2 linked regions of the Homo sapiens genome follow. The protein of the gene in region 2 binds, or shares a complex with, the protein of the main gene of each other region. Each region holds a gene or a part of one and is shown on either strand. Other genes may lie near its edges. The genes, in order: NME7 and TUBGCP3.

Region 1 (15,150 bases), on a different chromosome or scaffold from region 2:
CTGTGTCTGAGATCTGGATCTGCCCATCACTTTGGCTAGTGACAGGGCTAATTAATTTGCTTTATACATTTTCTTTTACTTTCCTTTTTTCCTTTCTGGAGGCATCACATGCTGGTGCTGTGTCTTTATGAATGTTTTAACCATTTTCATGGTGGAAGAATTTTATATTTATGCAGTTGTACAATTTTATTTTTTTCTGCAAGAAAAAGTGTAATGTATGAAATAAACCAAAGTCACTTGTTTGAAAATAAATCTTTATTTTGAACTTTATAAAAAGCAATGCAGTACCCCATAGACTGGTGTTAAATGTTGTCTACAGTGCAAAATCCATGTTCTAACATATGTAATAATTGCCAGGAGTACAGTGCTCTTGTTGATCTTGTATTCAGTCAGGTTAAAACAACGGACAATAAAAGAATGAACACATTCCTCGTGTGTGATTCACTCTTGTCTAAATGTCCCAACCTGTGACTTCTTTACTTTCCACACCACTAATTATCCAAGATCTTGAAGAAGTATTGAACCTGAAACGGAGAAACACATAATTTCTTAGTTCAGACAAATTTTGGTCTTTTCCACTTAACAGAGTCCAAGAGGTTGGTCAGGACTTCAGACACTGGCATACCCCTTCCCAAAGACACTAAAAGTTAATCAATCAATCAGAGGCAGAGAATCGATGAAGCTCCAGTTTGAAGTTCCATTTAAAAAAATCATCTTGCAGTGCTACTGCTACTTCACTCAGTTTAGAAAACATGAAGTGTTGGTTCCTGCTATTGCTTCACTAGACATATGTGTTAAAAAAAAAAGTTGTTAGCACTTCAGTTTTTAAAAAATGAGGTTAGGTTTGTGGTTCAGTAAATTAAGGTTCATACCTTGCTTTTTGGTTCAGGGATTGGCCTAAGTCCTTATTTAGCTGTATTTAAAAATTAGCCTTAGTGTGAAAGAAGATAAAAAAGCTTTCCAAAAAACATTTTCCAGCTATAATTATTAAAGATTTAGTATCACTTAACTAACATGGGAAATGCCCACACTAAAATCAGGGCATTGTATTTCTGAAACGGAAACCTTTCGCAAAGCCTGTGCAGGCAGAGGAGCTCACACACATCCTTGACGTGGCACTGTGTCTTCAGGGGTGCTGCCCTCTTACAGAGAGACAGATCTGGAGGCCATGGCCGTTTTGGTGAGAAATGCCAGAAACAGCTTCAGTTTCCACCTACTGCTTCATATTTATAATCACAGTAATCTATTTCTCGTTTTGCTATTTCTAGAGCAACAAATTGTGTGATGCGAAATTAGTACCAGAGGAACAATGACTCCACTTAACAAAAAAATAGCAAGGGAACTATGAAAAATGGCACAACTGCTTAACTTTAATAGTTGAAGTCTTTAGGAGACTTCAGTAGTTGAAATGACACAGAAAAATCCTCAAACTAACATACCTACATGAAACTGAGTTTCTCAAAGTAACCCACATTTATGGAAATAGAAGTTTGTCTTGCAGAAACATCAGCTCATTTTGTAAGGTGTATGTGATATTTAAATTTGTGATGCTTGTGAATAAGGGAATGGGGCTTTAGGTCTGAGGAAAGGGGAGCATTCATTCAAACTGGAGGGTATTTTGCATTTTTAAGGCTGCTATAAGGTCACGACCTTGGTGAGACTTAACCTGTTTTCGTATGTATTGTGTACTTTCTGTTCTAAGCCATTGTGTGTGTCTGTAACTTTCTCCAAGATTCTCTCCAAATCTTGCTTCTCTTAATTTCTCCAGATTGTGCCAACCTATTTCCCACTCCTGATCTTTAGTGTTATATCACCACTAGGAGACTGGGGAATGTGGTTTGTGTTCTTAGACTCAACAGATACCTACCATATGCCAAGCATTCTTCTAACAGCTAGTGAGAGATCTATCAGTGAACAAAACAGACAAAACTCCATCTTTTTTCCTCTGCTGCTCATATTCTAGTGTTAACCATTTGCATATTTCTCAGACTCTTCAATACATTTATTATTTCTTTTTAATCAGTTTATTCTGACCCTCAGTAGATGACATATTTCATGGGTGTAGGGACAGTGCCATCTATCTCCCTTGGGGTGTTCTTACATTCAAGAAATGGGTTTTCACACAAGTCCTGTCAAATACTTAATTCCTTACACAATATAAAGGGATTGAGTTTTTCAAAGATAGGCTGACTACTTGGAATGAAAAGCATTTAAATACTGAAGAGAGAAAAAGGATTCTCTTTTCAACCCTTCATATTCTCGGAAGGAAAACTGAAATACCGAGTTAGTATGTCCTCAACCCTGGTTAATTTCCCTTGCAAACAAAGAGGGACAGGCCTTGGTGTCAGAAGCTTTGCCATAAGATGTTACCTAGCTAGGATTTTTAAACTGGTTTTCATTGTATTTTATTACCTTCAATTAAGAATAGTTTAAAACAAGTAGTTTTCCATTTATAGCAGTAAAATAAATTTGTTCAAGTATAGCACTGAATGGATTTAAAGAAAAATAGTAAAATTTCAGGTGGTAAATATGATAAAAAGCATGGAAGTGATAAATGGTTGGCTAAAATTTAGGACTCTGCTTGACAGTATAGCATTTTAGGCCAGGCACAGTGGCTCATGCCTGTATCCTAACACTTTAAGAGTCTGAGGTTGGAGGATCACTTGAGCCCAGGAGTTCAAGATCAGCCTAGACAACATAAGGAGATCCCCCCGTCTCTACAAAAAAAAAAAAAAAAAAAAAAAAAAATAGCCGAGCATGGTGGTACACGCCTGTGATCTCAGCTACTTGGACGTCTGGGGTGGTAGGACAGCTTGAGTCCAGGAGGTTCAAGTCTTCAAGGCTTCGGTAAGCCTGGGCAACAGAGTGAGACCCTGTCTTGAAAAACAAAAACAAAAAAAACAACCAAAAACGGCATTACCCAGAACCTATCTACTTTAGAACAATAGCATGCCCTGTCTGCTCCAGCTGCACCTAATACCAGAGGGAACTGCTCCAACTCCAAATTAAAAACATTATCAGTGATCAGAAACAAAAGTTCCGTTATGAGAACCTTTCAAAGCTCAGTAATAGCTTAAACTCCTGGCTTCTTAAAGGATTAGTAACACTTTGATATCTGTGTATATTTGGCTCACAGAGGAGAACCAAATAACATTACCTTGAAAATCTAGGACTAAGGGACCTTATGAATACAGAGGGAAACTATCCAAGGAACAGACAATAGCAGTTTTAATTGAGTGAATAAAGTGATCTTGGTTTCAAATTCAACTGAGAAAACATGACTTTCTCCTTTTTTCTTTAAGAGGGGGCTACTGTTAACCAGACATGTTATCTGTAGTCCCCTGGGCTCTACACTGAGAAAGATGATCAAGAAATAGATAAGCCTGTTATTCTTCCAACCGATGGTTCCAATGAGCACCCATATCCTAGTCATGTGAAACAAAGGGGTGAAACAAGGCGGGTATCTTGGTTCATGCTTTAATTCTCTATTTTTCTCTGAGGGACTTTCAGCATCAGTCCTTTCTGAGGGATTAAGTATCTTACTAAGGTGTTGACTCTTATTGACTACAGAATTCAGCTCTTTCATTTAGTCACAAAGGCATCCTAGACCCTAAGAGAATGCCCATATTGTAGTAAAGCATACTATCTGTAGCTAGCTTTATCACAAAGCCTTTACAAAACTTGGATTTCATAAAATCATAGGCGGCCTCTAGGGCTATCTTTTCCAAGGAGACACATACATTCCCCCTTAGTGTTGACCCTATACAGACCAGGCAGGAGGTGACACGGGTTAATTTAAAACAGCCAGCCACATATATCGGGCACAGCCAGTGCCCGATATAGTCATTACTTGGTCTGTCTTTTGGAGTGCTTCAAGGAGTATGGAACAATCCTGCAGGAATAGGACATAGGATCCTTTCCTTTTGATAAGGAGCAGGGGTTCTGAAATAACCAGCAGGTAAAGATTAGGCCTTGGGGAGGTTCTGATGAGTCTGCTTTGGAGCCTCTAGACAGCAAGAGAATAGTATAATAGTATAATACAACTCAGGTTATACTGCAGAAAATGAAACATAATAGATGGAGAAGTCCATGCCTACCATAAACGTTTGAAACCTTTGCCTAGAGCAGGCCTTTCTTTTCTTTCATTTGCAAATTTCTCCTGAGCCACCTGCTATGTACCCAGCACTGACAATGAAATGTTGGGGTGGGGTAGAGGTAGGGGGTCACAGGGGAGTGTCCAAACACACTAGGTCCTCATGAAATTTTTACTTTTGTACTTCTAAACGTCTTACATGGTCTAAACTATTCTCATCGATACCACTTCCTTCCCCTCCTTCTTCTGCCATTCATGTAACATATTCAACATATCCAACGGATAATGATACTTGACTACCTATAAGATTAAGTTGAAGGCTCGTTCTGTCTTTATCACCATTAAATTTAAATAAGAACAATAGCTTACATTTATTTACTACTTTATAGTGCATAGTCTAATTTCACATATAAATCTCATTTCCTTCCCAATAGCTTTGTGAAGCTTGTTATTCTTTCATTAGTGTATCAGACACTTTAGAGGTGGAATGCAGGCATCTATTTTCCAATGGTTTTTAATGTTGATTGAGTATCAGAAATGCCTATGGAGTTATATTTTCTTTTAAATAAGAGTACAGATGTGCTTGAACACTTAGAGAATCTATCGCACAGTTGTGGAATTCCAGCACCAAATTAAAATATGTGTGCCTGTGTCACTACACTAGATTTTTGGATAAAATCTAGTCAGTTTGATTGAAGTGCAATTTTGTTAGTGTTCCAATAATATGATACTGAGTTTTAAATATATCAGTGTATTTAGTAGATGACCAACTTTCAACTCACTTGGGCCCCTTACAGCCAAGGCTGGCTGCATGGGCCTGCAGTCTGTGCACGGGGCCACATGCCTAGAAGAGCCTTGTGTTTGGTTTAATGCTCTGCTGCTGCTGTCTTGAAATTCTTAATGAATTTTGAAAAAAAGGCCTGACATTTTTATTCTGCACCAGTTCTGCTTAAAGCCAAGGGCGTCTACTGTAGGGTTGCTTTAGCATGGTTGTCCTAATGACTGAATGAAAAATGTGGTTGAAAAGGCTGCTTTTAAAATAAGCAATGAACAGATCGATGGTTGAGAGTTGGGCGGGTTGGGGAAGGTGCAGGGTGAGGCAGATTATGGAAGGTGTGAGCTGGCAGACTCAGCGGGCATGGAACAGAGGCCCTGTGATGGCGCTCTGCAGCCTTGGGCAGGGGTGAGGAGGGGAGGGCTTATGCTGTGGGGATGGCAAGAGGCAGCTACCAGTAGGGGATGCACATGTGAGCCTTGAATGAACCTTTGCTGGGCTCCCTTTCCCTTTTTGTCTTCCCTCTCCAAGGCACTACTTACTTTTCAGCTCCCAAAATATGGGGCTCAGAAGTGGTCAATAGTGAGGAAAGGAGTGGTAACTGAAAGAAGTCTAGGGTTCTCTGGGTGGAAAGACTCAGAGGAAACATTCAAACCTTGATAGAAAGGAGATGAAAAATCCATCCTTGCCTATTGTTGTAGCTATAGAACCCCAAAAGCCCTTGGGCTGCAGATGTACCCCCCACAAATCTATTTATGGTCTAATTAAAAAATTAAGTTGAACTTAATCATAACAGTGTCTTCTTCAGATATGCTTATCTTCTCCGTAGGTTTAGTTGACATATTTGAAATGTTTTAAGACTAAATGAGCCGGGTGCAGTGGCTCATGCCTGTAATCCCAGCACTTTGGGAGGCCTAGGCGGGTGGATCACCTGAGGTCAGGAGTTTGAGACCAGCCTGGCCAACATGGCGAAACCTCGTTTCTACTAAAAATACAAAAATTAGCTGTGCGTGGTACTGCATGCTTGTAATCCCAGCTACTAGGGAGGCTGAGGCAGGAGAATTGCTTGAACCCCGGGGGTGGAGGTTGCAGTGAGCTGAGATTGTGCCACTGCACTCCAACCTGGGTGACAGGGCGAGACTCCTCAAAAAAATAAATAAATAAAAATAAAAAAAAGACTAAATGAAAATGTCACATTAAAATGACTATACATTTTTCTAATTCTGGAAACCCAATGTCTTCAGAGTTCTCTTTTAAAAACCTCAAGGCCAGGTGCAGTGGCTCACACCTGTAATCCCAGCATTTTGGGAGGCCAAGGCAGGAGGATCACTTGAGCCCAGGAGTTCGAAACTAGCCTGGGCAACATAGAAAGACTCTGTCTCTACAAAAAAATTAACAACAAAAAAAATTAGCTGGGTGTGGTGGTGCACACCTGTAGTCCCAGCCGCTTGGGAGGCTGAGGTGAGGGGATCACTTGAGCCTGGGAAGTCGAGGATGTAATGAGCTAAGATCATGCCAGTGCACTCCAGCCTGGGTGACAGAGCAAGACCCACTCTCTAAAATATATATAGATATGTATATATGAAATTAAAAACTCAAAAGATAAAAACCTCTTGATTCCTCTGACTGCCACCCACTAAGGAGAAAATTCCCTTTTAAAAGCTGGAAGGTAATTATATCTCAGCCCAGAGTAGAGTGGTGCTGACTTTTCTCTTTATGGAAAATATTTACCTTCTTTGCTAATATAACTAAAGGCTACAACTTTCCATAAATTCATCATAAAATTGTGTTTCATGACTCATCATTATCTAGCCCCTTTTGCCTCGAAGATGGTTTTGGTTGTAACTGGTATCTCCCCAGTCTCTCAAAATATGAACAGATGTTTGTTGCTTCTGTTCCCTTCTCCTCCCTACCTGTAATGATTAAAAAGGTATTCTCTGAGAGTTTTCTCATCTCAGTGTGAACTTAGTCATAACAGTAACTTCTTAGTCATAACAGTATCTTCTTAGTCATAACAGTATCTTCTTCAGATATGCTTATCGGTCAATTTTTCCATATTTATATTTTAAATTTTACTCTTAAAAAATGAAGTTCTTGCTACATACCAAATGCTTTAACAGATTATTGTGTGTAATCCTTACAACCACCTTTATGACATTGGTATTATTAGTCCCATTTTCAGTTCATGAGACTCAAGTTTTTTGAGCTAATAATTTGCCTAAAGACATATCACTTTGTTAAATGTCTCTGGTTCAGCCTGTGCTGGTTCAGAGCTCACACTAGGGATGTAGCCTGGCTGTTGGAATTTGACTCCTAGCCCTGCCATCTCCTGGCCAGGTAACCTTGAGCAAGTTACTTAACTTCTTTGTTCCTCAGATTCCACATCTATAATGTAACAATACCTACTATGTAGGTTTGTTGTGAAGTTTAAATGAGGAATTATATGGAAGACATTTAAAATAGTGTCCAGCATAAATATTGCATAATAAATATCACTATTATTGGTTTCCAAATATTCTCCTAATGTTATGGCCCATCCTGCTGTATGTCACTGAACCCAAGTATCTCTGAATAACTCCATCAAGTGCTGACAGCCAGAACTGTCAATTCCAGCTTATCAGATGATAGCATACATAATTATTCAAGTCATGAACAGCAGAGGCAGACTAAGAAAACTTTGAAAACTAAGATAGTAAACAGACGTGAGAACCAAATGCAATATGTGATCCCTGACTGGATCCTGAACCAGAAACTATTTTTCTTCTTTTGCCACAGAAGACATTTGTGGGTAAAAAATGAAGGTCTGTACCTTGATAATAGTATCGTATTAATGTTAACTTCTTGATTCGCAATCACTTTCTGTGGTGACTGTAGATAATATCAGTGTTTTTAGGAAATATACACTGAAGTATTGAGAGATAAAGGGGAATTACATCTATAACATACTGTTAAATATTATAAATAATTAAATTCATATGTACAGAAAGACAGAAGAAAGGATGATTAACATGGTAAAATATTAACATTTGGCAAATATAGGTAAAGGGCTTGTGGAAAGTATTTTTTTAAACTTTTCTATAAGTCTGAAATTATTTCAAAATGGAATGATAAAAATATTAATCAGTAGAAAGAACAGAAAGAGTACTAGATTTGGAGTTGGAAGAATTGAGTTTTATTCTAGCCACTATTTCCTAGTGCTCTTAGGCAAATCATTTAGACTCTCTGAGCCTGTCTCCTAATCTAAAAATTGAAGATAATAAAACCTACCTCATTGGATTTAGTGGGCATGTAAGTTTCTGGGTGAATTTATAAAGTTGTAGCACATTATACAAATAATACTTTTTTAAAAAGGACATATGGCCCCATGTTCCCACTCTGAAACTAGTAGCCCAGGATGGGCTCTGCTACAAATCAGCTACAGTAAAGCTTCAGGGATGGGTTTTCTCAGTTATGAATGCCAAGCAAGCAGAGGGGAAAAACTCAGGTGACCTTGACACTTCCTCTTAGAAATTCATTTTGTGGCTCCCAGAGAAGAAAAGATTTTGACAGGGAACAGTCTATCCTTAAAAAAAAAAAAAAAAGATTTCAAATAAAAGAAATTGTAGATATAAAGACCAGTTCTCAAGATTGGTGATTTTCAACTTGGTTGTACATCACAATCACCCTATGGATCTTTAAAGAACCAAAAAGTAGATGCTTACACCCCCACCCTGGAGAGTCTGATTCATTAGGTCTTGGGTAGGTCCTAGACGTCCACATTTTCAAAGAGCTTCACAGACACTTCTGATGTCCACTGGGGTTGAAAGCCACTGCCCTAGTATTGTTTATAAGGACTAAATAAGATCCTTTATACATAGTGCTCAATAAACATTAACCCTAATCTCATCTTTTCCTTTCTCTGTGCCTCAGAGGAATGACAAACTGAAATTAGAAATGCAGATCTTGTTGACAAATGATTTACAATAAAGTTTCTGGATGAAGAAAAAAAAAGAAAACTACTGTCCTAGATAGTTAGTCAAAGTAGGTGCCTCCGAAATCAGAGCCCAAACCAAGCCCATCTGATATCATTATATGTGATCTGGGGAAAGAATAAAACCCCTCACTTAATTTGGCATTTACTAGTATCCACAGTACCTTGGAGGCACTTAACATGGATAATGTGCCAAGGAGACAGGTAGGCCTCAAAAGATGAAGTGGGGAATATGGGCAGAAAAGCAGAGTAAACTTCAACAGGATTACCTTGGGTATTGATAAGGAAATAAAGCAGGCTTACAAGATGAGTTTTATAAACAATAAACAGTGATTCGGGAAAAGGATCTTGGAGTATGTCCTCGTCATTCCCTGAATACTTGGGCCAAGACTGCTGTCTACGAGGCCATCAATGCTGATATGCTGAGTGTCCTCATAAAGGATGTTGTCAATTAAACCCAAGGAATTACAGTACTCTTTACAAGAAAAACAAACCACAGAATATTTTATTTCTTGGGAAGTTCCTATTGCTATACTTCATACACATTTCAGTTAGAAAAGCTCCAAGACAAAAATAATAGAGTTAGAAAATAGAAATAAAAATTTTTTAGAAGATGGAATGCCTTTTTTTTTATAAGGACAGATGAGAAAAGTGAAAAAGCTCTTAGATTGGATAAAAGCTGAGAGAATACATAATCAGAATTCATGAGATAATGAAGTGAATAGCTGGGATGGACTTTGTCACTTAAAATTGGAAAGAAATTGTGAAAGCATATGCTGAGGTAATTTAAGATTTAAGAGAAAATTACTTCATATATTGCTTCATTTAATTTTTACTGTGAAATGTCATTATTTCTACTCTTCAAGTAGATAAAATGAGTCTGAGAAAGGTAATTTTTCCTAAGTCATGAAGTTGGTAGGAGGAGAAGCTGGGGATTTGAACTCAGACCACCTGACTCCAGAGTCTGTGCCCAGAATCACTATACTCCTGGACCTCCCTTATACTTTAGATTTTCCAGAAGGCTAAGGAAAGCCTATATGGCATAGTAAGATTCAAGTTCAACTTTAAACTTTTGATTTACCTTTGAACTCAAGTTCAAATCAAGTAAAAGTCATTAAGAGCTCAGCTAACATCTTTCTATTCATCACTTCTGTATGCTCACAGCCTTTGGGCTGATTTTGAAATAGAAATGCTAGTCTTGCAATATTTTCAGCTAAGCCAGAATAAGATAAGATGTGTTGTTTTCCTAGGAATTAATTTCTCCATTTCTAGTCTTCAAGTTTTAGTAAAACGATGCTTGATGACTTACAGCAATAAATTCTTAACTGGTAATCAAAAAAGAATAAACTGTACTTCTGTTCATAAATAGAGGAAAGAAAAAGAAGCACCTGCAATTTGATAATTATAATAATTCATTATACTGCTTACAAAGGATACAGAGACAGTATGGCAAACTAGAAAAACCCAGGATTACTAGTTAGGAGAGTAATGTTCTATACACTAAGCCATGCAATTTTAGGTGAGCCATTTTCCTTCTTTGGGCAACACATTCCTCAATGGTAAAACCAAGGTGTCGGATTAGAATTTGATTTCCTCAAAACCTAGAATCATGGAATGTTAGTGCAGGAAAGGGGTTTAGAGGAGGGCCTCTCAATCTTTGTCACCTCATGGTGCACCTAGAAAATGCTCATTCTCGCATGGCATCCTGGAGCCGGCACAGGAAGTGGTTAAGGATTGGAGCTGCTGCCTCCAGGTCTCAGAGGATCAATTATTCAGCTCATTTGTAGGGGAGTCCAAGCTTTGAGAATTACAAGTTCAGCCTCATCATTTTCCACATGGAGAAACTAATGCCTAGACACATTTTATGAATTTATAACAACCCATAAATTAAAGTACATGGTATCAATGTATTTTCAGTTGTTATACTATTATTTAACAAATCTATCCCAACCTGACCCCCTTCAGTCCATTTTCCACATGGTAACTGGAGAGACCTCTTAAAAACTATAAACCTGATTATGTCAACGCCCATTCCCCTCAAGGGTTGCCTCCTGATGTTTTGAGGATAAAGATCCATATTCTTAAAATAGCCCACAAAGCCCTGCATGGCCCAATCTCTATTTCTCCAGTGTCACCTCAGGCTTTTTTTTTTTTTTTTTTGCATTTTATATTTCTTCTTTCCTTTTCTAAAACACACCAACCAATTCCCCGCATAAGGGCTTTAGCAAGTGCTATTTTCTCGGCCTGGAGTCAACTACCTTTTTCCTCAGCTGACACTCATTTCAGGCCTCAGTTCAAATGCCATTTGCTAAAGGAAACCTTTCTTAATCCCCCATCTACACCAGGTTCCCCGATTACAACTCATCCTGTCTTTCACTACACAGCAATAATCAGAATTTATACTTGTCCATTTCCTTTTGTGATTATCTGATTAATGTCTGCCTTCCTCATTAGACTATGAGCCCTGAATGGAATGTGTGTCTGAATAGGAGCTCTTGTTCATTACTGTCTCCTCAGTGCTTACCAATTTCTGGTGTATAGGAAAAGTTCAGTGAAATGTTCAATGAATGAATTTACGGTTTAGTTTTGGCTACAGAAGTCTTCCTGGCAACTTCCATTCATTGCACTGACAGCTCTGTACATCACATTTCTTGTAATATGAAACATGGATATGGTTATGCCTTACTTCACTCTAATTAGTGAACAGTATGGGCATTTACTTAAACTTTTCACTGCAAATATTCTCAACAATTTTTTTTTATTGTGGACAACTTTGAGATCTAATAAGCTACGGACCATTTCCCCCCCAGAATGAATACATCCACAACATTTTGCAAACAATTTCAGCCAGTCAGTCCATGGACTAACCCTATGAATAAATTTCAAACTCCTAAATTTGGCATAAAATAATTATATGACTTGAGCCTTAGCTACCTTTCCATGCTCATCTGCAATTCTCTAATGTCTTTTTAAGCTATGCTATATCAAATTCCATGTAGTTTCCCTACATGGAATTAGGGATTGCTCCTGTGAGTAGCTACTACACTGTAGCCTGGGCAACATAGTGAGACTCCATCTCAGGAAACAAAGACAAAAATAAAAAACCAAGGTAAAGAGCTAAGAGAATGGATACATAATATCCCTCAAATGAGAAGACAAACTGGAATACTAGCAAATAAAATTGAATACTTGCAATGTGTAATTATCCACAAAGGCCATTACAAGAGAATATATTATACAACATACACACTATTTCTTCAGCCTGGAATACTATTCTATGTTTTGTTTTTTTTAACATATCCTCCAATACTTGGAGCAGATTTCATATCTAACAGGAGGCTCATCTGATTCTTGTGCTGAAACCCAATAAGGATCAACCTCCTAGCATTTACTTCCTGATAGGGGCTTTCATGAAACCCAGGAAGGATCAATCTCCTAGCATTTACTTTCTGATGTCAATTTCGATAACAATTTTTCCTGGAGAATGTTAAATTCTTTGAGAATGAGGAGTGTGTCTTATTTAGCCGTAGTGCCTAGAACAGTGAATGGCACAAACAGGCCTTCAATAAATGTATGTTAACCTGAGAAGGACCAAAATTATCAATGTGAGAAGAAGCCAGGCACTGTGGCGTGCACCTGCCATCCCAATTACTGGAAGCTGAAGCAGGAGGATTGCTTCAGCAATTTGTTTATTATACAACAAAGTTATTTTTACCCCAGTAAAATGACTAAAAATTGCATTAGCCTAAGGTATCAATGTCAGTATCAGTTTCTGTTACAGAAAATCATCATGTAAACACTAGAACAATGAATTCTTTATTAAAACAAACTGAAGGCAATACTCAGAAAACGTACCATTATGATGACTTTATGGAAAGATTCAAAGCTATGCTGTGTGCTACTATTGTATAACGTTTTATAATTCTCTCTGCCTTGTGAATAGTAAGCAGCAGATTTTAGCTCTCAGATGGAGATTGTAGAGTAACAAACAAGTTAATGGGTAATGAGAAAAGTGGAGAACTTTGCACGGAAAGATATGTACACTGATATTCCAAGCAAAGAAATTATTTTTGCTGTTTTCAACTTGCGGTTTTTATTCATTTACTCAACAGATTAAGCTATTTCTAACTCTAAGGTTGGTACCAAAGGGGACCAGTATTTATCATTAGAAGAATTACCATTCATTACACAATGGAATATAAGCATAATGCATAATGGACTTTCACAGTGTGATTGGGTAGAATCCAACGAGACGGCTAATTCACTCAATTCTGTTTCACTTACTCTGGTGCTCTTCTCTCTTATGCCAGATTCATTTGTTGTCATAAGGCCAGTTATAGAAGCACAGTGGGAGGCGGGGTGGAGGTGAGGACAGAAGCATTATCAGAAGCTTCCATGGAGGCACAGTTTTTAAAATTACCCACTGAAAATCCATAGATAGCCTCATTGTAGCCTCTTTCCAGCCCCTACTCTTGCTCAGACCATAGTGGTAATGACAGAATGGGAGATATCACTCACTGATAGAGTAGACTATTCTGTAAGATGACAAGGTCAGTAAAAGCAGTAAATAAGGGTGTGCTTACAACAAAGATGGAATTCACAATGTATGTTGACCCGAATTTAAAAACAAGAAATAGAATTATGGAGGAAAATCGAATTGTTATAACCCCTAGAAACAAAAACAGCATCCAGCACAATTGTGAGTGCACAGTGCATACCACAAGAGATGTGAGCTAAATGTGGTATAATATGAGAGTATAGTGGGCCTGAAGAAGAAAGTAAAAAGTGGAGAGATACAGCATTTCATATTATTTTTATTGATTCAGAGGGTACATGTGTAGGTCTGTTACATAGATATATTGTGTGATGGTGAGGTTTGGGCTTCTAGCATACCTGTAACCATAATAGTGAAGATTGTACTCAATAGGCAATTTTTCAATCTTCATCCTCTTCTCACTCTCCCCGCTTTTAGAGTCCCCAGTGTCTATTATTTCCCTATGTATGTCCATGTGTAACCATTGTTTGGCTCCCACTTACAAGTGAGAACACAGCATTTAATATTATCGGAGGGAGAAAAGATCCCATACTACACATTTGTCTCAAATAATAAATACATCTGTGGTTTTTCAAAGAATAAGCCCTAATTTCCAAGGCAGACTTCCTAGTCCATAGCTATACCATGAGATGGAAATTTAAATGCTACAGTGATTTGGGGTGATTCACACAGGCATTCTGTATAAATTAAGCAAAAATGAATGTATTTATCAATAATTACAGATAAACTCACCAAAAGTACAGCCAAAGCCCTTTGGAGTATGACATAATTTAGCAATAAAATCAGGTGGTGTACCTAAGGGACAGACTATAACATACATATTCTTTAAATCCCAGTGACCTCTTCCCAGGGGTTAAATCAGAGGAGTCATATCAAATCCAAGAAATATCATCTTTGAATATATTTCAAAAGCCTCAAATGATTAAACCCAATGACCTTTTAATAAATGTAAAATAAATACACAAGGATATCAGCTCTAGGTCTGCCTTACTCCTTCCCTTCCTTCCACAGCCATTTGTCAATAATCAACTAAGTTACTGATAAACAGAGGCTAGGTTCTTGGGATACAAAGGTAAGACATGGCCCCTGCCCTCAAGGAGTTCACACTAAGGGGTGAACTACACAGAAACAAATAATTATTTAACAATACACCAAGTATGTTAACAGAAGTATGTATAAGGACAATGGGGACAAAGAGGAGAAAGTACTTGTGATTTTGTTCCTCATATGACACATTATTATTAGAATGGGAGATGAGAATTATGTACTTGGTCATTCAACAAATACTGACTATGCCCCTCTCATGGGTAAGCACAGTGAAATCACAGTGAGATCAGAATAATCCTTTGGAATTCCAGGGGCACGTGACCTTCTCTCATCCCCCTCAAGAACTCAAAGGCCTCTTGCTGCTGACAATACAGCAGCTTGATAGTTAAGAATTTTTTAAGGAATAAATAACTTTATATTTTTAATCTAAAACTGAGTTGGACAAGTTTGTGAATAAAAATATCAGTTAATAAGGATAAAACCTAAGTAAATATCTAATCATTCTAATTACTTTTGAGGGAGGCCAAATATTCTGACTCTATTTCCTATTATATCTTCCCTCATGCTTAGTTTTTCTAGTCTCACTCCCCATCCTATCATGAACTCTAAAGAAATAATACTTGTTACATTTAAGATCACACAGAAAGGCAGTGAGGTTAGAGAGTATAAATTCTGGACCCAGATTGCCTGGGTTCAAGTCTGTGCTCTGT
Region 2 (15,685 bases):
TAAAGAGGACAATCTATTTACAGCTTAGTCTGTATTCTGCAATTTTACCATCAGTTCCCAACCCAGATCCCTAAGCAACCTTAAGAGCCCATTAGTCAGGCTGACAGACCAGCCACCACTCTCTTCCTTATCATGCCATAAACTCCAATTTTTGTTTTTGTAAGATCAGAAGTAAGTTTAAAGTAAGTTTCAGCTTGTCAGTATCCCAGCCATTTCTTCTGGAAATTGGAGGAAATCCATGGGGGAAAAGCATTTCAAATGCCAAGGTCATCCTTCTATATGTTCTTATTCTCCCAAATCTTGGTTCCCAGGTTTTTTCACTGCGTTATGTTCCAGTACCTTTGAACATATGGTTTTTATATTGTATCCACTAGTTTCATGTGTTTGAAATGGGAGGATTGGTCTGAATTAACTAGTCTTTCATTACCCAAAATAGAAGTCTGGAAATGTTAGAATAATAGAAGTCATTCAATCTGAACAACAAAGAGAAAATATATTTTTTAAAAATGAAGAAAGCCTCAGAGACCCATGGGACTATAACAAAATAATTAACATCCACATCACCAGGGTTCTAGAAGGAGAGCAGAATGTGCATAGGACTAAAAAGTTGTCAAGGAATAATGTCTGAAAAATCCCCAAATTTGGCAAAAGACATAAACCTATAGATTCAAGAAGCTGAACAAACTCAAGGAAACCATGTCAAGACATTTCATAGTCAAACTCCGAAAAACTGAAGACAAAGAAAAAAAAATATTGAAAACAGCCAGAGAGAAATAACATCCTAGCATCAGGGGAAAACTATTTGAATGAAAGAAAAGTTCTCACTACAAACCACAAAGGCCAGAAGGAAGTGGCACAACATTTATCAAGTGTTAACTCAGAATTCTATATCTTGTGAAAATAGTCTTCAGGAATGAAAGGAGAGTCAAGATATTTCACATGGAGGAAAACAAAAAGAATTTGCTGCCATCATACCTATCCCAAAAGAATGGGTAGTTCTTGAAATAGGAAATGAAAAAGACAGAATCACGAAACATCAGGAAGAAAGTACAATGAAAAGAATGAAAATATGAATAACTACAATAGGCTCTCTTCTACTCTTGAGTTTTCTAAATTATATATGAGGCACAGACAGTACCACCATTTAGCGTGGTTCTCAATGTTTGTAGAGGAAATATTTATACCATAAACAGGGGAATGTAAAGGGACATAAAAGGAGATTGCGTTCATTCACACCATAAAATATCAACAGCAGTAGACAGAAATAAGTTATGTACATGTAAAGTAGCACCTAAAGAAACTCCTCAAAAAAGATGCACTGGGAAACATTATGGACAAATCAAACTGGAATTCTAAAAAAAATTGTTCAAATAATTCACAGGAAAGCACAAAAAAGAGAGAAATGGAAAACAGAGAATGAATAGAAAACAAAAAATATAATAGCAGACTCAAGCCTTACATATCAAATTACATCAAATGTAAATGGTCTAAATATACCAACTAGAAGATAGAGATTAGAAGGCAGCATTAAAAAAAATGGCCCAACTATATGCTGTCTATCCTTCAATCACAATCGCATAGTAGAATGAAAGGGGAAAAAAATAGAAAAATATATATACCATGCAAACAATCAAAAGAGGCAGTCCTATTAATATCAGATAAAGTAGACTTCAGAGCCAAGACAATTATATAATGAGATAAAGGTCAATTTGCTAAGATGGCATAGCAATTTTAAACATATATACACTAAACGACAGAGCTGCAAAATGTATTAATTGGCTGGGCAGGGTGGCTCATGCCTGTAATCCCAGCACTTTGGGAGGCCGAGACGGGTGGATCACGAGGTCAGGAGATCAAGACCATCCTGGCTAACATGGTGAAACCCCGTCTCTACTAACAATACAAAAAAATTAGCTGGGTGTGGTGGCGGGTGCCTGTAGTCCCAGCTACTGGGGAGGCTGAGGCAGGAGAATGGTGTGAACCCGGGAGGTGGAGCTTGCAGTGAGCTGAGATTGCACCACTGCACTCCAGCCTGGGTGACAGAGCGAGACTCTGTCTCAAAAAAAAAAAAATGTATTAATTGATAGAGCTCAAAAGAGAAACAGCAATCCACAATTATTGTTAGAGACCCTACTCTCCTTTCCCGCCAATTGATAGAACAACTAAACAGAAAATTCACAAGGACAGAGAACAACTTATGAACAATCAACTGGATCTAATGGGTATTTGGAGAACATGGCGATCAACAACAGCAGAATATATATTCTTTTCAGGTGCCCACAAAACATATAAAAAGATATACCACTTCTGACTATCAAACAAACCTCAACATATTTAAAAGAATTAAAATCTTAGTCTGTCTTCTCTTACCCCCACTAGAAATCAACAACAAAATAACAGGAAAATCTCCAAACACATGAAAAAGAAATAACACACTTTTCATTATCCATGGGTCAAAGAATAAGGATCAAGAGAAATACGTAAAAGTACACTCAACAGAATAAACATGAAAATACAACATATCAAAATTCAAAAGCTCAGCAAAGCAGTGCTTAGACAGAAATTTATAGCACTAAATGTTTACATTAGAAAAGAGGAAAAGTCTCAAACAATAACCTAAGTGTTCACCTCAAGAATCTAGAAATAGAAGAGCAAATAAACCCAAAGCAAACAGAATGAAGGAGATAATGAAGAGATTAATGAAATAAAAGCAGAGACATAACAGAGGAAACAAATAAGACAAAAAGATGATTCTCTGAAACTTAGATAGCTGCAGGTTTATTTTATAGATGACCTTTATCAGGTTGTGAAAGTTTCTTTGTAGTCTTAGGTTGGGAGTTTTTATTATGAAAGGGTTGGTTTTGTCAAATGCTTTTTCTGTGGCTATTAGAAGGTCATATGGATTTTTTCTTTTATTCTATTGAGGAGTTATGACATTAATTGGCTTTCAGATGTTAGCCCAACCTTGCATTCCTCAGATAAACCCCACTTGGTCATGTTGCTGGATTTAATCTGCAATCACTTTGTTAAAAAGTTGTACCTTTCTCATTTTATAGTTTTCTTATGATGTGTTTGCCTGGCTTTGGTATCAGGTTAATACTGGCCTTGTAAAATATTTGGGAAGTGTTATTTTGTCTCTATTTCCTGTAAGATTGATATCATTTGTTTCTTAAGCATTTGAGAAAATTCACCAATGAAGCCATTTGGCTCAGATCTTTTCTTTGTGGGCATGTAGTTAACTATAATTCAACTTGGTTACTTATACATCTGTTCAAATTTTCTATTCATTGTTGGTCAGTGCTCATAATTTATGTCTCTTTAGGAATTTGTCCATTTTATCTAAATTATCTATTTTTTTAAACATTTTAAAATTTCTTTGTGATATTTTTAGTTTCACCATGGACCCTTGTATGTTATTTCTTTTATTCCTGATTTGGCATATTTCTGTTTTTTTCTTTTCCTTTTGGCTTGTCCAGTCTAGCAAATCTGATCAGTTTGTTTTCCTAGAATCAACTTCTTTTAGTTTCTTCTGTTTTCCGTATTTGTCTTACTGTTTTCTAGGTCACTGTTTGCCATTCGGATCTTTTTTTTTCTTTTTTTTGAGATGGAGTCTTGCTCTGTCACCCAGGCTGGAGTGCAGTGGCATGGTGTCAGCTCACTGCAATCTCCGCCTACTAGTTTCAAAGGATTCTTCTGTCTCAGCTTCCCGAGTAGCTGGGATTGCAGGCACGCGGCAGCATGCCTGGCTAATTTTTGTGTTTTTAGTAGAGATGGAGTTTCACCATGTTGGATAGGCTGGTCTCAAACTCCTGACCTCAGGTGATCTGCCCTTGGCCTCCCAAAGTTTTGGAATTTAGATAAAGTCTCTCTCTCTGTCCCCCAGGCTGGAGAGCAGTGGTGTCATCGTGGCTCACTGCAACCTCTGCTTCCTGGGTTCAAGTGATTCTCTTGCCTCAGCCACCTGAGCAGCTGGGATTACAGGTGCGTACAACTACGCCCAGCTAATTTTTGTATTTTTGTAGAGATGGGGTTTTACCATGTTGGCCAGCCTTGTTACAAACTCCTGACCTCAGGTGATCCACCCACTTTGGCCTCCCAAAGTGCTGGGATTACAGGTGTGAGCTACCGCGCCCAGCATCCATTCTGATCTCACTCCCCTTCCTTCTACTTAGTTTGAGCTTGATTTGGTTTTCCTTTTCTAGATTCCTGGTGCGGAAGCTTAAACTATTCCTTTAATCTCTTTCTTTCTAATGCAACGATCAAAACTTAGCAGCATCCCGTCAATATTTTGAAATGTTTCTTTCTTTTTCGAAACTAGTTTTATTGAAACAGAGTTGGAATGCAACATGCTGCCTGGAAAGTTGGCTGGCTGCAGCCCAAATGCCCTGTGGGATCTTTCAGGTCTGACCACGGGTGATGACAAAGGCCCCACCTGGCTGCCTCATGGTGTGTGGCCAGTGCACTGCCGTGTCTGAAGGCTGTTGCGGGGAAGGACCTGGGTGCCCTGGGTATCCCCTGTGCCCAACCCAGGCACCTCCCTTCCGAGACCACATGGGTCCCTTGGCTGAGGCCTGTCTTAGGTACCTCTGCCAAAGCCTCCTTTTCAGGGGGCCTGGAAGACATTTTTCCCACTCTGACTTTGCATTCAGCACTTTTCCACTCTCAGCTGCCTCCCTCTCTCTCTTCCCCTGACTCCAGGGCCATAGAATGGCAGAAACCTTTTGTTAGGGGCTCTCTGGGCAGTGAGACAGTATCCCTTCACTGCTGTCTTCACAGACACACCTAACCTTCACCCAGTGCCGTGGGGGAAAATGAAACACCAGGGTGGGGGCTGGCACTCTCAGTGAGGCCTCTGGTTTCTACTCCTGCCGGGAGTGACACCTGCCTGGTGGAACCTGCGTTTGGCCTTTGACCCACCCACCACCCGGCACCTGGCAGCCGGCCCCTCTCGCTCAGCACCTCACAATGCACAGATTAAAAGTGTGTTGTTTGTTACATTTAAGAACCAGTATTGAAGCATTATGAATCAAAGTCCATACTTTGAATTATTCAGACTACCTAGTTTTATCTACTATCTATGTCGGTTGTGAACTATTCCATCCTATGTCCAGGCATAATGCAGAGAATGGTGTCCTGGCCACCTTGGGGGTAACCATGGCCATAGGTCATTATCACAGAGTCCAGATGTTCCATCTGGAGCCAACCAGTAAACACCCGGTCACTATGCCCACTCAGTGGCATGCCAGCCAGGACTCTGTAACACAATGGTGTAGATGCACTGTTCTCTGGGTTCCATCCCGTATCTCCAGTGCTCCTGGGCCAGGGATCTTTGATATGATTCTTTTGTTCCCAATGTAAAGGGGCACGTGAACTAAGTTGACCCAAAGAGAGGGTAAGTCAGGTGAAACCATCCCAAGTTTGTGTTATGCCATCCCGATATTGAGTGGTCTAATCTCTCAGCTGGTGTAGTACCAGCATTAAGGTATGTGGACTTTTACTGGAAAGCTCTTCCTATGGCTTTTGCTTTGTAAAGTATCATTCATAGGCCAGTGATGCACACTTGCCTTCATCATACTAGTGCTAAGCACCAATGACTGTCCTGAGAAACACAGACACATTTCTGATATTCTGTCTACTCTTGTCCTTGAAGAGGAGCTGCCACCATGGTAGGCCAGAACCACCAGAAAGGGGCGCAAGGCCACACACCTAACGAGTGTTGTCCTGTAATTTACTAGCACAGGCCCAAGCCTACTGCAAGAAGATGTTTGTTTCATGGGCAATGGCTGGTGATGGTAGCAACAAAACAGAAGAACTAGGGACAAAAAGAAGGAAGTGTGGTGGGAACTTGTAAAGGAAGACCTTCCTCATCTACTGACGATGATTATATTAAGGGTTTGTCTAGATACAGGCCTGGTCAGGTGTCTTGAGAAGGCTGATCGCCTCACATGTTGTTTTCTTCTCATCCTTGTTGGTTCTGGAGAGTTTTAGTTTTAGATCACCAATTTGAGATGAAGTCCAAATTGACAAAGCAGCTTTCCTTGCATGGGTGGCAGGTATCCAGGAATCAACTCCTTTAAGCTTAGTGGCACAAGGGTTGGTTAGGAGTCCCTGATAAGGTTCCTTCCTCCTTGGTGGAGAAAGTCCTTTAAAGGATGCTGTTTCCTACAAAGTCTCCTGGCTGAAGTATGTGTTCCTTGAGTTTTTGCTTCTTGGAGCTCACTGTGGAAAGAATCTTTTACTAAATAACAGTTTTTACTTAGGTGCCTTATGAGGCTGCTGCAATAATACAACCTGTCCCTTTTTAATATCATCGATTTACAATTTCCTGGAGACAATTTCATAGGTCTGTCCGTTATAATTTCAGATGAAGACAGTTGGTGTTTACCCATAAGGGCTGATCTTAGGTGAAGCAAAAACAAGAAAGAGCTTCCAGTCAAGGGAGTTTTAAAACTTCAGTTAATTTTGCCAAATGAGTTTTGATTATTCTGCTTGTGCATTCTACTAACCCAGATGACTGGGGTGATAGGCACAATGGAAATGCTGGAAAATGGGCCAGATTTTGCATACTAACTGGATTATTTGTGCAGTGAAATGAGTGCCTCTGTTGCTATAAAGTTCTTGAGGAACTCCCCAAATCGGAATAATTTTCTCTAAGATAATTTTACTTACCGCCAAGGCTGCTGCTCTTCTGCATGGAAATGCTTCTACCCATGAGAAAATACACAAACCATCACTAGGATGTGCCTGTATCTTTGTGATGGTGGTAGCTGAAAAAATCTAGTTGCCATACCTCGAAAGGGCCTTCTGGTAAAGGAAAATGACATGGAGAACTGGGTCAAGGTTTCCTTGCATTATATTCTGGGAAGACAGCCCTGACTGTATACCCGTGAGCAACAGTTGGAGAAGGTTTCCGACAACATTGTTCTCCTCAAGAAATCAATAATCTTATCAGGGCTCCAGTGAGTCACATCGTGTATGCACGTTAAGAAAGATGGCTGGACCGGGCGCGGTGGCTCACGCCTGTAATCCCAGCACTTTGGGAGGCCGAGGCGGGCACATCACGAGGTCAGGAGATCGAGACCATTCTGGCTAACAGAGTGTAACCCCGTCTCTACTAAAAATACAAAAAATTAGCCCGGCATGGTGGCGGGTGCCTGTAGTCCCAGCTAGTCAAGAGGCTGAGGCAGGAGAATTGCGTGAACCCAGGAGGTGGAGTTCACGCCATTGCACTCCAGCCTGGGCAACAGAGCGAGACTCCATCTGAAAAAGAAAAAAAAAAAAAGAAAGATGGTTGTAACTTAGTTGGAAGTATGAGTAGAACATTTGGTCAAACCGTACATCAGTCTCAGAAGCGCATGTGCCACTTTTGTTTCCCAATTTTCTCGTCCTGTTTTTGGAGATTTAGATTGAGCTAATTTTACATAAAAATCTAACTTCCTTAAAGGCCAAAATGGTTTGATCTTTTTGTTCAGATATGTTTATGGCCACCCTGTTTGCTATACTACCTGCTAACTGGCTTATCTTGCTTTTTTGAGTGTCTTTGAATGGCCTGGAATCTTGATAATGGCTAATGATTTTGGCAATAGTATGGCTTGCCATAATTCTGAAACAAGGCACCCATTTTTTTGTGGGCTGACTAGAAAAGGTTAAAAATCCTTTGTCTCCATAGCATTCCAAAGTTATGAGCTACTCTATAAGCATACCTGCTATTGGTATAAAGATTAGCAGTTATTCCTTTTGCCAACTGACAGGCTCTAATTAATGCTATTAACTTTGCTTGTTGAGATGATTGCTCCTGGAAGACAAGCACTTTCTATTTCTTTGGGCAAAGACGCTATGGCATAACCAGTGTAATACCTTCCAGCTGCATCTTTAAGTAAGAGCCATCTGTAAACCAAATAACATCAGCGTTAGTGAGGGGGGTTCTTGCATGTCTGTCCTAGGAGAGAGCTGGTCAGGTAAGATGATGCAGTCATGCAGCGTTTCAGCTGAAGGTGGGGGAGAGGGTGGCAGGATTTAGATGACATCTGGACATTGTAGTATGCGGCTGAGAGAATAACTTCATGAGAAGCCAGTTACTAACTGATCGTGTTGAGTGTGATGCAAGTTTAGAAGCGTTTCCACAGAATGCGTATCGAAGGCAGTGAGGGGTGATCGCATCCTTGGTGGTTTGGTTGCTCTTGCAGAGCTGTGATGGTTGTTGCATCATGCAAGGAGACAGTCCTTTAGCTGTAGGGTCTAGTTGTTGACTGTAATACCCTACAAGTCTGCTTTGTCTCCATGTTTTTGAGTCAGAACGACAACAAACGTTTTACTTGCCAACAATTCTGCAACCTGAGCTGGACCCAGGCCCGACGGGCTTTGCAGACAGTCACGTGTGTGGCTGGCCTCAGCTGGGATGTTGGGATAGCTGGGTTGTCCTCCCTCTTCCATTTCATAGGATCTCGGGATCTCTTTCCATCATTTTTCCTTAGGAAGTTGGCCTTTTAACATGGTAGCTCACGGCTCCCAAGCGTGCACCCATGTGTAAGCTTTAACGATTGCACTGAAGTTGGCTTGGTGTAATTGTCTGCTTATCGATCTTTTTCTCGGCAGGTTTCCTGTTCTCTCACTCCGTACGTGATTAATTTATTTTCCCAGGACGTCCCAGTTACCCGGGCCGGGGGGGACCGGCCCGCGCGGCAGTGCGAGGTCGGGCCTGAGCAGGGCGCCTGTTGGATAGCGTAGCAGGTGAACTGCCCACTGCACGTTAACAATCGTAACACCCTGCACCCTTTAAACAGGCTTCTTTTTTCTTTTCTTTTTTAAACAGGCTTCTTTCATCAGAAGTGTGAATCAAACCAATGCCGTTAACACACACACCCCCACACCCACACACCAAATTATGGCCTTTATGGTGCTACCGGCCACCAAGTGCCCTCCAAGCAAGCCCGTCACGCTCGCGACTCCGGGGCCGCTCTGTCCGCGCAGCTCGAGGGCCTCGGGCCACCTGTCGCCCGGAACTTTCTCGGCCGACCGGGCAGCAGCAGGGGGAATGCACCAGACAGGGCCGGGAACGCTTAGGCAGCCGCACGCGCGGCCGCGGCGCAGGGAAGAAGCGGGGCATTGTGGGAAGCGCCCGCGCTTTCGGCGGGTTCCGTTAAAATGGCGCCCTGGTGGCCGGCGGCGCCCGCGCCTTAGCCTGTCAGGAGCAGGGAGCTTGCGGGGCGCAGGAAGGGCGCGGGCCGCGGTCCCTGCGCGTGCGGCGGCAGTGGCGGCTCTGCCCGGACCACCGTGCACGGCTCCGGGCGAGGATGGCGACCCCGGACCAGAAGTCGCCGAACGTTCTGCTGCAGAACCTGTGCTGCAGGATCCTGGGCAGGAGCGAAGGTAGAGTGGCCGGGCGACGCGAAGCCCGCAGACCCGTCCCGGGGGCTGCTCCCTGCGCGTGCAGCCCTAATACGTTCCGGGGCTGGAGGAACGAGGATGCAGGGCCGGGCAGAGGGCTGGGGGACGGGCCGAGGACGTGGGGCCCGGACGAGGGAGCGGAGGGCTGGGGTTCGAGGGTCAGGGAGCCGGGGAGGACAGCGGAGGGCTGGGGGCCAGGACCGGGGCGGAGGGAGTGGAGAGGCCAAGGCCGGGGCGAGAACGCCGGGGCGGGAGGCGGGAGGGCGGAGCCGAGCCGGAGCGGGCTGAGTCACCGCTCACTCCGCTCGCGGGTCCGTCAGTGAGGACGGGAGGAATGCCAGCTCGCCAATTTATCCCCCTTCTCTGGTGTCACGCGCCGTGGGAGGGCGCCTCTGCGCGCCTTTGGGTTCATCCTGTGGGGTGGAGAGAGCGGCTGCGCCGCGGAGGTGGATGCGGGGTGCTGGAGTGTCACATCATCGTCCCTTTTCGTTAGGAAAGTTTAACAGGCTTGAGTATTATGGGAAGAGGGTGTTAACGACTGTAACTGCCGTGTTTTCCTACTGTTTAAAGGGTTGAAGGTTGGATTTGATATAAAACTATTCTGGGAAAGTTCACATGGCGAATATTGTTACTAATAAGCAAAACTAATCCTATACGGTAGGTAAAACCATTTTGTAGTCGAGGTACTTTGAAAGAAATGGTACAGGATGCCATTTCTTGCTCCTTGTTTTGGCCAGGTTGGTGGGGCAGAGAGTGAGGATGCACCATGAGGGAATTTTCTGAGTAATGGAAGCAACTGAGTTACATCTTAAGCACCAAAATGTGGAAAAGAAGTTACTCAATTTTTGAAGGAAGACTTCAAAGTTACATTTAAAGTACTGAGAATGCATTTTGACCTTTCATGCTTCATGACAATTACTGTACATAATTCATTGGATGTTCTATGATAATCTTGGGGCAATCATGAATAATTTTGTGTCGCTATTAAATGAGTGACTTCACACAGTTCTTGCTGCATCTTGTAAAGTTTGATTCTATCACTTTATTTATCTAAGAAATCTTTGAGGACAACCCCGTCCTCAAAGTTCCCCCCGGGAACTGTGCTAAGTGCTGGTGATGCAGATGCACAAGTCATTCCTCCCACAGATCTGACAGACACTCTACTGGAAGAGACAGATGATAAACCAGCCATGTTAATTAGCAATAAGTACTGTGGCGAAAAAGTAGGGTAAAGGAATAGAGAGGGAAGAGGCAGGTGAGGGAAAGCCTCTGAGATATTTAAAGAGACCTGAATGGAGTAAGGGAGGGCCATTTGAACATCTGGGGAAGGTTCTGAGTAGAGAGAACCAGTGGAAAGGTCTTGAGGTATGAGCATGGCCTGCCATCGTTTGTTTTTGTCATTAGCAGACTGAGTTTCCTTTCACATGTTTCATGTTCCTCGTCATAGGGGGAATCAGATAAAACTAAGATTGTTAGGACTTACCCACCTTAATGTCAGTGTTTTCCTTATACCAGTGGTTCCAGAGTTTTTTTTTCTAGGGATAAACCACACATTCATACATTCCCATTGTTATAATTGGATTTTGAAATTCATTCATCATGAGCTAGAATGATATTTCTCAACCTAAGAACTTTTTTTTTTTTTTGAGACAGAGTCTCACTCTGGTCGCCCAGGCTGGAGTGCAGTGGTGTGATCTCGGCTCACTGCCAAGCTCTACCTTCCGGGTTCATGCCATTCTCCTGCCTCAGCCTCCCGAGTAGCTGGGACTACAGGCGCCCGCCACCACGCCTGGCTCATTTTTTGTATTTTTAGTAGAGACGGGGTTTCACTGTGTTAGCCAGGATGGTTTCGATCTCCTGACCTCGTGATGCACCCGCCTCGGCCTCCCGAAGTGCTGGGATTAGAGGTGTGAGCCACCGCGCCCAGCCAAAAACTTTTTTTTTTTTACATTGAAGATTCTTTGATATAAAAGTTTTGTCCCTTCTAAGAGACTGAAAAGCTTCTTTTCAGCAAAATTCTGTATCCTACTATCTTCCCATTTAGAACTGTGTCTAAAAGTGGGCTCTCAGATCCTGACAGGGTCCTCTCTGAATAAATAATTTATTTATTTATTTATTTGAGATGGAGTCTTGCTCTGTCACCTAGGCTGGAGTGCAGTGGCATGATCTGGGCTCACTGCAACCTCTGCCTCCTTCAAGTGATTCTCCTGCATCAGCCCCCCAAGTAGTTGGGATTACAGGTGTATGCCAGCACTCCTGGCTAATTTTTGTGTTTTTAGTAGAGATGGGGTTTCACCATGTGGCCAGGCTGGTCTCCAACTCCTGACCTCAAGTGATCTGCACCCCACCCCCCTGCCGCTTGGCCTCCCAAAGTGCTGGGATTACAGGCACGAGCCACTGCGCCCGGCCCTCTCTGAATAAATTATGTCATGAAGTCCATTAAAGGTGATGCTCTTTTTGCTATGTTCTAGATAGCTAGGATTGTCAAGCATTTATGATATAATTTTAAATTATGCTGCTATTTACTGAAGAATTTATAAATAGTAGCTTACCTTGTTCTTTCATTTGTTATACCTTAGTGAGCAAAGGAGCAATATTAATTACTACCTTTACAATATTTGGTGTTAAAAATTTGATTAGTGAGCATTTTATCTGGTAACTCCATAGAATATTTGATTAATTACCTTATTCTTTGATGACATATTACAATTGGCCTTATGCTTTTGTAATACATTTTTTTTAGTACTATGAAATCAAGGCATAATAGGTACTTGTTACTTTTAATGAGAATTTCATATGAATCACATTTTTATAAGGTATCTTTTAAAAAATTATACAGTTGACTTCAAGGGACCTTCAGAAGCAAAGCACCTACATATAATGGTGCTTGACAGTTTTACAAAGTTAGCATGACCATGATTTACCACCTTTTCCAACTTATAACATCTGTGAATTTGCTTGAAACACATACTGCCAGCCAGTCATAGTCAAATCCTGTCTCCATATCCCTGCCCCTCCTGGGAGCACATTTATTTATTATGTCTTTGCGTAATTATTCTTATCATTGGAAACAGTGTGCTTGATGTTAATGTTCAAATCTGTCAGAGGTAACACTTCTTTTCATAGCTACTTTGTAATCCTTTTTCTAACTATGAGGTAAAGAATACATAAAGAGGAATTTATATTAGATAAGTATTTCATCATAAATGTTCAGGTATGACTACAGTACACAGCATATTCGAAGATGATTGCCATAATATGCAAGACCTCTATGAGTGTCCTACAAGCCACTATCAGAAGATAAAGGATTATTGTTTTGGTGATTCAGTACCACAAGTGGTGTTGCTATTGGTTTCATGATTTTCCAAAATGGTAAAGAGCTTTTGATGAAGTTCCAAATACCATGTGATCTTCCTTTGGTTATATAATTACATTCTTGGGAAGATCAATGTGTATTACATGTATATTAAGATATACATTAGATGTGTATTAAAACTTCAGAGTTTCAGGCTTTGTTTCAAGTTGTACTTGATGGATTTACTATTTTTCAATAAGTTAAAATTTAAAAATTGTTTTGGCTTAAATTTCTAATATGGTAACTGTGGATAGATATAACCTACATAAACAAAAGCTTTTTGGAGTTCTCAATCGTAATAGTGTAAAGAAGCCCTGAGACCAAAGAGTTTGAGAACCACGCATCTAGAGTAATGTTTTTGTTGTTTTAGAGCATTGCTTTTCAACTAGAGCCATGCATTGGAATCGCCTGTGATTTCACAAGAACCTGATAACGTTGATTGCCTGTGGGAAGGGGAGCTGGTGGCCAGTGGTTGAGAACAGGACTTTTTATGGTATCTAACTTCATGCCTTTTCATTTTAAACTCTCTAAATGTGGGACTTACTCAGAATTAATATTGTGGGCTTCATCTCTAGGGCTTCTGATCCTGTAGGTGTCTGTTGGAGCTTGGCATCCGAAACATTAAAATGCGTGATAAGTTACTCTGACTTGCATCTGGAGTCAAGGGTGGCTAGTGTATGTGCTCTGTTCCTCTACTAAGCACTGTGGCTTACTCCCAACGCCCTCCTGACCCCTCCCCCATCCTTCAGAAAAGCAGAAGTGTGGAACATATAGTCCACGCTGTCGACAAGAAACAGGAAGGCAGAAACTTGGGTCTCCCCAAACAGTTCAACTTTTCCGCAGTTGTTTTTTGAATCTTGAGAAACACACAACTGTGGAGTTTCTGTATTCACTTGAGTCGAATTTATTTTTGTGCATCTTGAAGTTCAGTTGTCATCTTTAACCTGAGTGTATATAGAATCTTTTGGGGATACAAAGGGCAACTTTTTTGTTTAAAAGCTCTTGGGCCCACATCCAGGTGTCTCTGGAGCCTTCACATTTGGGACTGAACGCAATTCCAGCTGAGGGTCTTGCCTTGGCTTTGTATCTCCTCTAGTTCCTCTTCTCCTCTTCAGTCAGAGGGTCCTTTCTAGAAAACCAATCTCATCGAATCTGTTGAAGGCTTAATTTGTTCTCTATTTGTAGTCTTCAAGATGAAGACCAAATTATCTTGCTCAAGGTTAAAAATTGGGTGCATTTTTTGAGTTGTGATTCTAATGGCTGTAGCAGATATAGTATGTATTTAATATTTTCAGGTTAATAACAATACGAATAGCTAACATTTATATAAAACTTAAAATATGCTGGATGTTGTGCTTATACTGTGGTAGAATTATGGTGAACCTCATTTTCTAGATGAGAAAACTGAGACTTTGAGAGATTAAGTAGTTTGCTCACTATCATCGAGCTAGTAAATTGCGGGGCCAAGGTTGGAACCCAAGTTCTGATTCTACAGCTTGATATTTTGAATTAATTCACCCCGGCTTTTAAGTGTTGAATTTGATGGCGAATTTCTCTGTGTGCTCGATAGAGACAATAAGTCATGGCCCAGCTTGTGGGATGGCTTCTCACCTCTATCCGCTCTTGTGTTTAGAGTGTACAACTCAGCAGCACTGCTCTCTGGTCAGGCAGTGTGCCCTTGCATTCATTGAAATAATTTCAGAGGATCATCAGAGGAGTGTTCACTCCCCTTCCAGGAACCTGAGAACTGCCCACCCCTCACACACCCAGAGCAGATTAGAGGTGGGAGAACTAGACCTCTCCTTAGGTGATTTGTGGCCAAAAAAATGGAGTACTCTATTTTTCACTCTTGCATTAAGCAGAATCATCAGAGATCTACATCTGGACCTTGTCACCTGGGGCTCTCGATGGAGTGACTGACTGAGTGGCATTTAGAGCCCTGTGGCACGGCCTCCCTGCAGCAGCAGTGTCCAGTGCCGCCCTTCCCTGTGGGTTCCCCTCTCTGGTCCCTGGGCTCCTCACGTGGCAGCCTTGGCTGCCAGGCTAACGGTGTTTCCTGCAAGGCCTTCCCTCAGCATCTACTTCACGAGGTCCTCCTGGTCATGAGCTGTCATAGTGCCCTCATTTTCTTTGACGCTCTTATCACAGTCTGCCTTGGGTACTTATGTGCCACATTTGTTATGTTCTACGTCTGTCTCATTAACCACTGTACATCATATTGTTAGGGCCTGACGTGTTTGGCCTGTAGTAAGTATTTAGGAGTTATTCATTGAATTACTGATTGAGTTTAGTTATACTTTAAACACTGAACAGTATTTTGGGAGTATTTAAACCAGAAGCGTGTAGTGGACATTGCTTGATTTTTTCCCAGCTTATTCTTTGATTGCAGGTTCACTAAACAAGGAATGATTGCTATGTCTAATTTCTTTAGTAGTCTGGATTCTGTGCTTTTCCCTCTGAAGCACAGATTAAGTAGATTTGGTTTAAGAGGTAACAGTTGGATTTTTAAAAATATTTTATAATCAGCAAGAAGGATAAACTGGAAATTTGGTTGGTAAGAGGACAGGGAGACTCAGGTGTGGCTGAAGAGGTAAGTGGGGGTGAAATGATGACATCCATCTGAGGTGCAGAGAAAGTGAGGAGGTGAAGAGGAGAGTGTTTCTGGCATTGAAGAGTTCCTAACTTTTTGGTATGAGAAAGTTGAAAAGTATATAAAACATTTGGATTGGGGATATTTATGTGATGTACTTGAGTGTGAAAATGGTAACCTAAAAATAATTTTTACTGGCTGGGTACGGTGGCTCACACCTGTAATCCCAGCACTTTGGGAGGCCAAGGCGGGAGGATTGCTTGATCCCAGGAGTTCGAGACCAGCCTGGGCAACATGGTAAGACCCTGTCTGTACAGAAAATATAAAAATTAGCTGGATGTGGTGACACATAC

What was found.
Region 1: TUBGCP3 (region 2) and NME7 share a complex: the UniProt entries of both Homo sapiens proteins name them as parts of the gamma-tubulin ring complex.

The regions. Positions count from the first base shown.
Region 1 is NC_000001.11:169,132,294-169,147,443, forward strand, and holds the end of NME7 (nucleoside diphosphate kinase homolog 7), read right to left. Parts: intron 525-15,150; coding exon 492-524; 3' UTR 238-491; downstream 1-237. UniProt on the Homo sapiens protein: Possesses an intrinsic kinase activity. Displays 3'-5' exonuclease activity with a preference for single-stranded DNA. Does not seem to have nucleoside diphosphate kinase activity.
Region 2 is NC_000013.11:112,581,589-112,597,273, reverse strand, and holds the start of TUBGCP3 (gamma-tubulin complex component 3), read left to right. Parts: upstream 1-9,120; 5' UTR 9,121-9,293; coding exon 9,294-9,369; intron 9,370-9,852; exon of another isoform or gene 9,853-10,044; intron 10,045-13,112; exon of another isoform or gene 13,113-13,235; intron 13,236-15,685. UniProt on the Homo sapiens protein: Component of the gamma-tubulin ring complex (gTuRC) which mediates microtubule nucleation.